3 separate regions of the Homo sapiens genome follow, and regions 2 and 3 are each linked to region 1. Evidence: fine-mapped expression QTL. A gene starts in region 1. Each other region holds a variant in brackets. All regions are shown on one strand. Distances are between the middles of the regions.

Evidence for each region. PIP is the estimated chance that this variant, and not a neighbour inherited with it, causes the effect. A credible set is the group of variants that fine-mapping cannot tell apart.
Region 2: its variant is the best candidate, but not a certain one, in a credible set for the expression of NTRK3 in atrial appendage (GTEx, PIP 0.59).
Region 3: its variant is the best candidate, but not a certain one, in a credible set for the expression of NTRK3 in nasal epithelium (TOPMed, PIP 0.88).

Annotation. Positions count from the first base shown.
Region 1 is chr15:88,254,862-88,259,046 of GRCh38, reverse strand. It overlaps NTRK3 (neurotrophic receptor tyrosine kinase 3), which reads left to right and starts at 2,308. Exons shown (of 20, transcript NM_001012338.3): 1 at 2,308-2,403; 2 at 2,561-2,763; 3 at 2,879-3,141. The coding sequence starts at 2,894. All of the region lies in intron 1 of NTRK3-AS1 (NTRK3 antisense RNA 1), which reads right to left. RefSeq lists enhancers at 455-749, 3,090-3,626, 3,627-4,164.
Region 2 is chr15:88,129,944-88,134,128 of GRCh38, reverse strand. The region is part of intron 10 of NTRK3 (neurotrophic receptor tyrosine kinase 3); the gene reads left to right. Among named protein-coding and RNA genes, the nearest start is that of NTRK3-AS1, 120 kb to the left of the region's middle. The variant C/T (reference allele first, on the strand shown) is at 2,370.
Region 3 is chr15:87,974,000-87,978,184 of GRCh38, reverse strand. The region is part of intron 14 of NTRK3 (neurotrophic receptor tyrosine kinase 3); the gene reads left to right. Among named protein-coding and RNA genes, the nearest start is that of MIR11181, 30 kb to the right of the region's middle. The variant G/A (reference allele first, on the strand shown) is at 2,200.

The sequences.
Region 1 (4,185 bases):
AGGCCCAGAGTGTGAGCATAAACGTAGCACCCCATCTTAATCCCATTTTACTGTCAGGATGAAAGACTTCTTGCCCATCAGGGCCCCTTGCTCCACAATCTGCATTTTTACCAAATCCAGAGGGGTTTTTAAAGGTTTTTTGTTGTTGTTGTTTTTGTTGTTCTAACTTATGGATGTCTCTTCTTCTCTGCTTGACATGTTAAAAATCCTCTCTCTCTCTCTTTCTTTCTCTCTCTCTCTCTCTCTCAAAAAAGTGGGCTGGGCATCTTTTGGACACAACCATTTCAGTTCCAGGCTGGAGCACTGATGCTGGGCTGAATCCACTTGGCGTTCCCTGCCCAGGAGTGGTCTGAGAGAGGCTGTGTTTCTCTGCTGCCACCTGCCACCTCCCAAGAGAGGCCAAGTGTTAGGATCTGACTACACCTCAGTTTCCTGACTCTCAGATATTCTAAAGCCAATCCCAGAATGGCACTTGAAGTGACAGGGAAATTCCCAGTGGCCTAAGGACAGCCAGGATTGGCCTAGGGCCAGTAGCAAGTGGTTTGAGAGTCCAAGGAGGTCTTCACACTCTGTCCCCGCCTGCTGGTGGGAGGGCAAAATGCCAGTCTGGAGACAAGGCCATAATGGCGACGGGGGTAAAAATCTCCCTGGGGCCAAGGGAAGGTGGAACGTGACGGGAAGTCGGGAAAACTGCCTTGTATAGGCATGTTCTTTTCTTCCATTTTTTTCGTCCAAGTTTTTACTCCAAGCGACAGTGCCACCCGAAGGCGACCGGCCTGTTTGTGGTTGCGCCTGGGGCAGGCGGTGACACCGGCATACCCCTTCCCCCATCTTGCCTGCAAGTTGCATGACCTGCATCGGAATCCACAGGGGGGCGGGGGAGACTCCTTTCAGATACTGGATGCAGTTGAATTGAATTCAATGTATTTTGCTTCCTCGCCTGCCCTCCTCCAAGCTCGGGAAGGAGAACCCTGCTTTCTTCTGCGTGTGAATGCTGTAGTGTGTCTGCCTGCTCGGACTCCCCTAACCCTTTCTTCTCCTTTCCCACAGCGAATGCTCGTTTTTTTTTTTTTCAGCAAACAGCTCACACTTGGCATCTTTATGTTTTATTAAGAAAAAAATCCCTACCAGCGCAAAAGCGGGGCCCCCCCCACACACACTTCTTTCCCGGATGAGATCTGAGCTCTCGTCGAAAGCTGCACCTGCTTTGCGTCCCTACCAGGAAGGGGTGCTTGTGTGGGAGGGAAGGAGGAGGTTCTGCGCCCCCGAATCCGGAGAAAGCAGCCCGCCCGCCCCCTCACCCGGCAGCCAGCTCAGCTCACCCGAGAGCTGAGCCCGAGAAGCCGGCCTCTGACGGTGCTGGCGTGGCGCTTGCCAAAATATGCCCCTTGCATCTCAATTTCCCCCGGCCATTTCTCTTGCACGCACAGCTCGCCCGGGGCCACCTCGGCTCTCCAGCGCAGCCCTTTCGACCCCTGTTTCTTCCTTCCCCGATCCATGCCTGCTCAAGGCCGAATGCAAAACCCACCTCCAAGAAAGCGCAGCGGGCACGGGGGGCACCTAGCGTGCCATGTCCCGCAGTCCCCTCCCAGCCAAGACCAGAGCCCCAGACTCTAGATTACGGAAATGAGTGTCATTCAGACCAAGGACTGCGCGTCTGCGGTCCCGGTCCCCGGCTCTGGGTGCTTCTCTGGGGTGTCTGTGCGCTCCGGCACCCCCCGTCGCCGTCCGTGAGCCTGCGCCCCCCACCCACCCAGGCTTGGGAGCGCCCCCCACCCAAGGCTTGGGAGCACTCCCCAATCACCTCCGCCACGTTCATTTCACTTCCTACCGCGGTCCGGATTGCAGCAAAACCGGGTAGCGCGAGGGCCAAAAAGTGGAAAGGAGAGCGCCTTTCCGTGTCGTGCAGCCAGCTCGCCAACTCTCCCTCCCCAGCCCCGACCCTCGCAATCTCAAATGCAACTTTTTCCCTTCGGTCTCGGTTTCCCCCGGGCTGCGGCTAGCGGGCGCCGCGCTGCGAGGCGTGGAGCGGGCGGGCTGCCGCGAGGCTGCGGGTGGCGGTGCCGGCTACAGCCGCGAGCCGGCGAGTGGGTGGGTGGGTGGGTGGGGAGGAGGGAGAGGACAGGCGGGGAGAGAGACGGGTGTGGGGAGGGGAGGGAGGGGGAGATTCCGCTCTCCTGCCGCTCCCAGCCCGGGCGGGGGGCGGGGGGAGGAGGCCGCGACGAGGGAGGGGAGGAGGGAGGGAGGAAGGGAGGGAGGGAGCCGAGGAAGACGCTCCGATAACCCGTGCGTTTCGTAAGGCTCGGAGCACTTGTACATTTCTGCAGCCGCGCGGCGAGCCATTCGCGGCGGCTGCTGCAGCTCCTACTGCATCTTCCTTCTCTTCCTTTCCTCGGGCTCCGGGTGTGTGTATGTGTGAGAGTGAGTGTGTGTGTTTTGCAGGTGCGTGGTGTGTCCGTTTTAATTCTGCCCAGTAGGTGGGACTTGGTGACTTTAGCACCATTTTTTCCTTTTCCTTTTTTTTTTTTGCCTCCCCACCGTCTGTTGCAACCCTGCAAAGTCTCGGAGTCGGAGAGCGCGCCTCGCTTCCAGAGCCCCCGGACCCGGCGAGTCAGCGATCGCCGAGCCGGCCACCATGCCCGGCAGACCGCGCCACTAGGCGCTCCTCGCGGCTCCCACCCGGCGGCGGCGGCGGCGGCGGCGGCGTCCGCGATGGTTTCAGACGCTGAAGGATTTTGCATCTGATCGCTCGGCGTTTCAAAGGCAGAGGCCCCCCCTCCCCCTTCCCCCCTCCCTCGCCGTCTTTGTTTCCTTCCCCCCCTGCTCTCCCCACTCCCCCCACCCCACCCCCCTCTCCTCTCCTCCTCCTCTTTTTTAGAAGCAGCGATCGGAGATGGATGTCTCTCTTTGCCCAGCCAAGTGTAGTTTCTGGCGGATTTTCTTGCTGGGAAGCGTCTGGCTGGACTATGTGGGCTCCGTGCTGGCTTGCCCTGCAAATTGTGTCTGCAGCAAGACTGAGATCAATTGCCGGCGGCCGGACGATGGGAACCTCTTCCCCCTCCTGGAAGGGCAGGATTCAGGGAACAGCAATGGGAACGCCAGTATCAACATCACGGACATCTCAAGGAATATCACTTCCATGTAAGTCAGGCGGCCGCTCCCCAGCCTGCCTCCCCCGCGCTCTGCGTCTCCCTCCTGCCCACCCGCGGCCGGGAGCCGGCCCTCCGCCCGCCCCAGCTCGCCGCTGCCCGCCGCCCGCTGGGCGCGCGTCAGGCTCGCTCTGGCTCGGGAGATGCTCTCCGGCTGCGCATTCCAGGTGACTCCGGCCCTGGCGAGGCGCGATCCGGCTATGCGTGTGTGTGCCTCTCCCCGGAGAGGACCCCGGCCGCCGAGGGCACGCGGGGCCCAGCTACCGCCCGCCTCCCAACCAGTTGCTGGCTCGTTTCGATGGTGCAAATTGTTTTTTTTTGCTCCCCACTAAATAGCAACAGTTTGGCCACGCTCAAGTGGAATAAAGTAGACGAGGTTCGATTCTTTGGCAGAGGCGGCAGCGGCGGTGGCAGCGGCGGCAGCGCTTAGCCGGCAGGGAAGGTGACAGATAGGGACTGCTCGCGATCCAGCCGAGGTGTTTAACTATTTCCATTTGGAAACAGCAAAACATGCTGACAAGTAAACAAGTTGCGAGCTGGCTGCTCGCGGGGAGACTTTGGACGTGTGGAGGCCGTCATGGACGCCTACCTCTTCCCTTCCCCTCCTGCAGCCCGCCCTCTCCAGCCCCATTTTGGGCATTTCCGAGACACCCCTTTGCCACCCTCATCTGCATCTGGGCGCCTACAGATCCCTTCCCAGTTTGGGCTTTGATAACTGCTCGGAACTATTCCGAGTCAGGATGGCGCAGGGAGAGGAGAGGGCGTGTGTTTTGAGGAGAGGGGTTTCTTGTGTGATCGTGCGGATCGGTTCATTTGGAACATTCAACTCTGGCTGGCTTTTGCTTGGTTCTGCCCCCTCCGAGGGAGACCAGTGGTGGCCTGCTCTTTTCTCCTTGCTATTTTTCTTTGGTGGGGATGGCAGCAGACGCAAAGGAGAGGACAGATCGAGGGCTGGGGACTGGAGAGTCTGCTCCTCTTTTCTTTCGTTGACCTCGGCCAGGTGACCCCTTCCTAACCTACCACCCTGGAGAAGGGT
Region 2 (4,185 bases), 120 kb after region 1:
GTGTAAAAACTGATAAGACACATACACACATGCACATGCATGCTCACACACGTGCACAAAGGGAAAAGGCAGAAAGAGCTAGCAGTATGTAGCATCTGTTTTTATGAAGTCAACTTCACAGTCTACAAATTACCAGGGTGTGGCAGCTCCAGGAAGCTTTATTTATGTCAGTGCAAGGGAACTCGTACTGGAGGCCCTGAGAGTAAAGTCGGAGAAATGTGGCTGCATTAAGCTAAATTCTTGCCGTTGAGGTCCCAGGGATGATGGAGCCGTCTTTTCGGAGGCAGTTGAGAATGTGCAGATGTTTGAGGCCCTGGAAATCCCATGTAGTCTGAAACTTCCATCATCCCCAGAATGCTCAGTAAAAGCCCCCATGACACTTCCCCTCCTGGGTCACACTGTGCTCTCTTTCAGCAGGTAGATGAGTCCTGGCCTGCACAGTGGAAGAAGAGGCTTTTAGAGCAGAGATATTTTGCTCTTATGGTCTACAAGGGCAGGCTAGGTCTTGTTGACATAAAAGACTGAAACGTTGCCCTGCCTGTGGCCTGATTAGAGAATAAATTCTGTTTTTAAAGAGGAAAGTCTATACATTGTTGAGGGAAAGTCTTGATTGGTGAGGAAATGAAGCACCCTGAAGCAATGTTTCTGTTTCCAAAGAGAAGCTTCTGGGGCCTAGGGAGGGGGGAACCCTAGAATGCTCAGGAGGGAGGAGAAGACACTCTGGCTCCTTCTGCCAGGGGTATCCTGAGAGGTGTGGGGTAGCAGCAGCAGTTGGATGATGTGGTGGATACAGCTTCTCCGTTCTCTCCTTTGTCTCAGGAGGAAGCAATACTTTGCGTCTTCTCAGCCCTCAGAGCTATCTCAGAGATACCTCCTCTGCCCCCACGAGATGCAGCAGCCCCTTCTGTTAGTCTCTGGATACCCTTGTCACCATAGTCAGTTATCAGTGCTCCTCAGGCCAGTGGTTCTCAAAAGTGACCTTTGGTCCATGGACCAGCCCCATCCACCTCACCTGAGAATGTGTTAAAACTTAAGTTCTCAAGCGCCACTCACATCTACGGAATCAGAGATTCCAGGGTGGGGTCTAGCAGCTATGTTTTAACAAGCCCCCAGGTGACTCCAGTACTCCCTCCTTTGCAATCTACTACCCTGGAATTGAGTGGGAATCTGGCCCCAGGAGGATGGAGGGAGGATAGAGTCACAGAGAAACTCAAAGAGAAAGCACCTCACCTGAGGTCATTTCCTCAGACCCATCTCCATCCTGCTAGGGTCACCCTGTGGGAAGATTTGCTTGTTTTGTGAGTCTAGGTTAAAGGGATCAATGGGTGATGAAAAGGCAGTGACAGGGAAACGATGCCAAGTGACAAGATGCTTAAACGCTCAAGAGAGTCAATTATCTGGGGGTGCAGGAAGAGATGAGTCATAGCCCTCTAAACCGAACTCACCCCAGCTAAGCCTAGATGCAAAGCTGGTCTGTGATTCTTGCTCTTCTCTTTTGATGTGAAAGTGTGGAGACATCGTGATTATCATGTGTGTTTCTCTTTTGCTTCCAGGCAGCTAAGCATGGAGGCTAAGAGCAGGCAGTCTGAAATCAGACAGACTTAGGTGCAGGTCCCATCTGTGGCCCCTCCCAGATAGCCCTCCCATCTGGTGGCCTGGGCTCCTAGCATGGGGCTTAGTGCAAGGCCAGTACTAGATGGAGGACAATCACTTCTCTGTGCCTCTATTTCTGTATCCATGAAATGGGAATGATAATATCTCCCATCTAAGCTACCATGAGACTTAAAGGAAGTTATGCCTGCCAAGTGCATAGCAGTGCGTCTGGACAGAGAAAAGGCTTACTAGCTGTGGGCCATTGTTAAGATTCTTAGGATGTAGAGCTGAGATGAATTCAAGAGTTCTAGAACCAGTAGTCATTTTCTGGTCAACCTAGTAAGTTCTAACAGATAATGTTAAGGTAGTCTAGGCTAGTTGTCATGGAACCACGTTGCCAGGGCTCTGACTCTGACTCAATCACTTGTCAGCTCTGTGACGTCAGGCAAATTGCTTCACCTTCCTGCTTTTACCTTAAAGGTTGTGGTGAAGATTAATTTACAGAAGGGGCGCTTCTTGAAGAGTTATGGTCTGGGACTGTAGGAGACATGTGTATTCCCTTCATGGCACAGCCCCAGTTCATGTCCAGATTGTTCCTTGGTGTGCTGGACAAGCGCTCCTCCCAGCCTGCTGGTGCAGTCAGAGGTGAGGACCAGTCCTGGGTACCATCCTCTTCCAGGCTGAATGCCTGAACCCTCCCACAGGTTAGAGAGGAGTCAGGATGTCTCCTTCTTCCAAAGCTTATGTGCTTTCTGGATGTATAAATGCTTCCAGGC[C/T]CTGGCAAAGGCCTTAAACACTCATAGGCTGATTTGGAGATAACAGGGTTCACAGACTTGACCAAAACATTTGGCTAACGTGAGAATATTCTCTAATAAATGGGAGCCTTATGAGACATATGCAAATGAATGTAAACTGCGAATTGATCTGGCACCTCTCTTCTCTCAGGCTCTGAAACCCAGGCTAGAGCTTCCATTTCCTCCATCCTCCCCCTGCCCCAGTCAGGCTTCTGGTCACCTGCTGTTGAGAAGAGGGTGTTGGCACGAAGGGTATGCCCAGGAATGTGAAGATAGTTCTGTGACCATCCCCCAAAACAATACAGAACAGACAACAAACAAGCAACCGAACTGCGTGTACCATAAGTAAGGCTTTCTTTGAAGGACTCCATCACAGAAAGTATCCGATTCCCCACAAGTAGTTAGAGAATATCTGCTGGTTCATACTTAATAGAGCTAAGACTGTGAGGGCCCGCAATGAGTGAATGAATGGGTGAATGAATGAATGAATACACTTTTACTTTTCAGGGCATGGTGGGCTGAGGCAGGAGGCTGTGTAGTATTGATATAGTGCATTCCAAAGGGAACAGCAGCATCAGCGTCTGCTGAAAACTTGTTAGAAATGCAAAATCTTGATACCCACCCCAGGTCTACTGAATTAGAAACTCTAAGGTGAGGACTAGTAATCTGTGTTTCTTTTTAATTTTTAAAGATTTTTAACTTTTCATTTTGAAATAGTTTGGAATTCATATTTTAAAAAGTTACAAAATCATACAAGGCACTTCCTTCCACCCTTTGTCCAGCTTCCCCAGATGTTAACATCTTACCTAACCACGATGCAATGATCGAAACCAGGTTGTTAACATTGGTCCATCACTATTATCTAGTGTACAGATGTGAATTACATTTCATCACTTGTCCCATTGATGCTTTTTCCTTGTCTAGGATCCAATTCAGAATTACACACTGCGTTGAGTTCCTGTGTCATCTCACTCTCTTTAAATCTGGGACAGTTCCCTAGTCTTTGTCTTTCATGATCTTGGAACTTTGCAAGAATACTAGTTTTTTTGTAGACTGTCTTTCCATTTGGAATTTTCTGATTTTTTTCTTAATGATTAATTTCTAGCTATGCATTTTTGGCAGGAACTCTGCAGAAGTGATGCTCTGCCCTCTCAGTGCATCGTTTCGGGGGCGCGTGATGTCGATAGGTTTTGGTACTGGGGGTGTTGACTTTATTACTTGGTCAAGGTGGTGTCTGCCAGGTTTCTCTGCTGCAAACAGATGATTTTCCCCTTTGTAAGAAATCAGTATAATATTTTTAAACTACATAAATAGCTTGTTTCTCATCCTTCTTTCACACTCTAACATTCATTGATGATTCTTGCCTGAAACAATTATTACTGTAATATTTGTGAAATGGTGATTTTTCTATTTTTATCATTCCTTCTACATTTAAAAATCAGAATTCTCTTGTAAGGAAGAGCATTTCATTCTTCCACCTTTTATTTATTGAATTGTTTATTTGTATCAATATGGACTCATGGATATTTATTTTGTTCTATGGCTGGTAATTCATGTATTCGTTTGCTAGGAATGTCACAGCAGTGAAATACCATAGACTGGGTGGCTTAAACAACAGAAATTTATTTCCTCACAATTCTGGAGGCTGGAAGCCTGAGATAAAGGTGTTGGCAGGGATGGTTTCTCCTGAGGCCTGTCTGCTTGGCTTGCAGATGGCAGTGTTCTCTTTGTGTTGTCATGTGATTTTCCCTCTGTGCGTGTGTGTTGACGTTCAAATTTCCTCTTATAAGGACATCAA
Region 3 (4,185 bases), 280 kb after region 1:
GGAAGGGGGTGACTTTCCCTTCTTCAGTAGGAAAGGCACATTTGTAGGGCCTGAAACTCTCCCGTATTTGCTGACTCATTGGTGGAGTAGACTTCTGGCTCCCAGCTCCACTGGCCCATGGGGCCTCCATTGTATGAAGTCAGCATAGGCTGCCCACCTAATGGTGGAGAGCATGAAACTGGGAGCATCCTGTGGGGGGCTTGTGGGGGAAAAAGGTGGTTGTTTTAACCCACCGTTGTTTTGGGGTGGTGTTGCACACTAGTAGAGAATAGAGTCTATGCCTTTGGCAAATTTAACTGGGAGTTTGGATTCCCACTTAAGGGTTTTACTTCTTGGGTCCTGTGGATGGTGGTTCTTCGTGTCAGGATCCCAGCCCGATTCTGCAAATGCCTCCATGGGGTTTAAAAACATGAGGCTTTCCAAGTTCTTGCCCAGTATCTGGGGCAGCCTCCAGAGTATCACCTGGGAGTTCAGGTTCTCTCCAGGGCTCCAGGTGTGTGTTTATCTCGCCCCCTCCAGCTCTCCTCATCCTGCTCCCCATTGCTCCATGTCAGGCTGTTCCCCATTGTGCCCTGCTGATGCTTTGGGTCCAGGGCCTCCTCCCAAGTGTGGCTTTAAGGAGTAAGCTTGAGGATGATGTTTTTTAATTATTGTAAATCATTACCTCATTTCCAGCCTCCCAGGCTCCATCCATCCCAGCATCTTTTATTCTGCCATTTTCCTCACCTTGTGCTATGACAATGGGGCGTTGTGTTTCCACAGAGACTTATAGGAGTGTTCAGTGTATAGTTTCTTAATAAACACTTTATTTTCTAATGAAATGACTGAATCAGACCTCTTATTTGGAAATTTTGCAAAAACATTCAAAATACAGAAATTCCAGGTTACCTGCATTTTTTCCTGTTTTCCTGTTACTCTTTTAAAGAAGTTTCTTAGTTAAGTTCTTTGTTTACAAAGGTGTTCACAATCTGTTCCATTGGTTGCTTTCATTGAGAGTCTTCCAGATAGCTTAGGCTCATACAGTAAAGTGCTTTTTCATCGTATTGAGAAAGAATTAGAGGCTCAGAGAGGTTGAATGGTTCATCCAGGGTCACACAGTGTGAGAGGTGAAAGCAAGATTCAAATCTGACTTCTACAGACACTACTCAGGCCACTGAGACCCTCACTCCTTTGGTAGCTGGGGAATGTTCTGTTGTCTGAGCAGCCAAGGCTCACAGAAATCTTCTCTTGAGAGCTGATATATGGGGGTCTGAGAGTGGGGTTGGGGATCCTTTATCTTTGGTGCACCAGCAAAGCCAGTGGGGCTGTCCCTAGGATGGAGTGGTTTTGTATGTTCCCTGTGGATGTTGGGAAAGTGACCTTGCCCAAGGAAAGACGGGGCTTTGGGCGTACAGGTCAACACACTTGTCATTCAGAGACACACTCCCTTTCATGCACACACTCAGGTGAGCCACACTCTCATGGCAAGTTTCATGTGGGCTGCCAGGAGGGAGAGGCCAAAGAGTAAAATGCTTAGATGAACTGGCACATCTGTGCACCCTTGGACCCTGGCAGTGACACAGCTAGAAGAGTTGAAATGCTCCCTGTAACTTGCCCTCTTCCTTTCAGGAGGAGAGGACACCGTGAGGCCCTGTATGCAGGAGAGATGGAGCAAGAGTGGAGAATGCGGGCCGGGAAAAGGCTCCTGGGTGGATCTGAATGCTTCACTGGGCCCCAGTAATCCCTGATGGAGCTCAGTCATTGAGGCAGTAGAGATGAGACAAGTAAAGTAATGTGGAAGAGCTCACGTTCCAGTCTGACAGGAAGTTGATCAGGCTAGGTTGGTGCTTTTCTATATACCCTCAGTTGCTTTATCTTCTATTTAAGTCTAGTTTGGTTTGAGACCCCCTTATGCCAAATGGAAGCTCCTGCTCTCTAGAGTGGCCTGGGTGAGGGGTAGACCAAGCTCGGCATTTATCTCTTCTTGAGGGTTCCAAGGAGAAAGAGTTGGAACAGGGATGCCTGAAGGGTTGAGGCTGTCCTGGGGACCATGAGGACATGCACTGGTTCGAGGGAGAACTTTCATTTTTAATATAGGAGAGATTTGAGCTTTCTTTTTTTCTGATGCTTGGAGCCTATCAGTGTATGGGAGAAGAGATAATAGATAAAGATGGCCCCTGAGAATATGGGAAGGAAAAGTATCCACAGCTCAGGAGGAAG[G/A]GATAGCATTGGCCTCATGGAGGGAGTGCTCTTCCCATAGAGCAGGAGGCAAAAAGAGGAAAGGATGTGGAATGTCTTTTCAAGGTGATAGGGCAAGGAAGTGAGGGAGTTCTTGTCTGGTGGCTTCCATTTTTCCTATAAAGAATGAGGCAAGGCCTTGTGCTGCTAGTGAGAAGACCCAAGGAGAGTTGGAACATCTGAATTGACGGGGAAGAGACTATGGACGACTATGGGGATCTATGGAAAGGTTGCTGGGCAGAATGAGGAACCAGCTGCGATTGGAGTCTAGGCCTCCGTTTTCCATGTTTTACTGCTAGGTGTTGAAGTCTCATGGCATTTACCCCAGGGTTGGTGCCTCTAGGGAAGTCAGAGCTGGTATAGGGCAGATGCGGAGAGCTGAACTCAGCCCAGAAAGATGCCAGTTTGGACTGGCCTCAGCTTAGGGTGGCTCAGGGAACCAGCCAGTCCTGCAGCTCCCTGACCTCCTGCATTCGAATGTCACCAACAGGATTTCACAGTAGCTTTGTCAGACCTTAAGCTTACATTTTGATCCTGCGGGATTTTGCTGCACAGATTGACAGCTGACTCAGTTCACGAACCCAGGGTGCTTGCCAGGCGCTCCCTGGATCTTCATTCTAGAGACTTGGTTGACAGGTGCTGGTTCTGAAGCTCAGAGAATGAGAAACTCAACTGTACCAATAAGATCTTGTAGAAACAAGGTGAAATTCGATCTAACACATTCCAGGGACATGCCCTGGAGAGGCTGGACTTTTTTACTAGCATTACATGATGAGGTCCTGGAACTGGTTGCCAACCTCCCAAGAATGGGTTTACTGTGGGGCATTAATAGTAATAATTCTATGTAACTTATGAAGCACTTACTCAGAACCAGTCAGATTTTACCCACAAGGAAGCTGAAGCTCAGAAAGATTGAATAACTAGCTCAGGTTTCCACAGCTTGAAACTGGCAGAACCAGGACTGACAGGGGGACTGCCTGACACCTCAAAATGCTTTTGGCCACTCTGCAGCCCCCTAAAGTAGCACATCTTCTGCTCCTGGAAGGCTATGATTGTGAAACACCACCTAGGTGCTCCCCCCTCCAACCCCACTCCACTCCTAAGACAGAGAAGTCTTTCAGGGGTCTTCAGGGATGAGCACCATCCCTGACTTCCTTCTGGAACTTTTGGGACAGGGTGATTTTAAAGACTGGAAAAGAACATCTGCAACGTTCTTTCCTCTCATTGTAGCATTTAGTGACTTGGGGGTGTATGAAAGCATGGTTGGGCTTAGATCTGAGATTAATCACATGTCTTACAGTTGGTGAGATTCCCAAGCAATGATGGCCTTTTTGATATTGGGGAGGACTCATCATACAGTTGGATGAGACCAACCTGATCCTTAGGATAGCAGTTAGGCTGCCCAGGTCTGGGCAAGGGTGAGAAGCTTCAGATAGGAAGGTGGTAGAAGAAAGGATGAGACCAACCTGATCCTTAGGATATCAGGTTAGGCTGCCCAGGTCTGGGCAAGGGTGAGCAGCTTCAGACAGGAAGGTAGTAGAAGAAAGGGCCTTGTCTGACTACCCACTGTCACTTAACCTTTCTTCAACGCACCTCAAAGACCTCCTGATATGTCCAAGCTCAGCCATGCAATGCTCACCCTAAAAAGACCAAACACAAATCAGGCTCAATTTGGAAGTCAAGAATCTGACCTCTAGCCACCTCTGTCTCTTCTTTTGTGCGGGAATCCCTTTCTGCAGCCAAGCTCCCAGCAGCCACATCCTCACCTCCACCTCCCCAGCCACAGGTGTGACCGCAGCACAGCACTGGGCTGTGACACATCCCCTGGCTCGTCCCAGTTCCCTCAGGTCAAGACCAGGCATGAGCAAAGGATCAAGCATCTCAGATACAATGGTGAGGCAGCAAGGGAGGGTTGGATGCCGCGGGAAAGCTCAGGAGCGGGCAGATCAATGCAGGACGACTTCATTG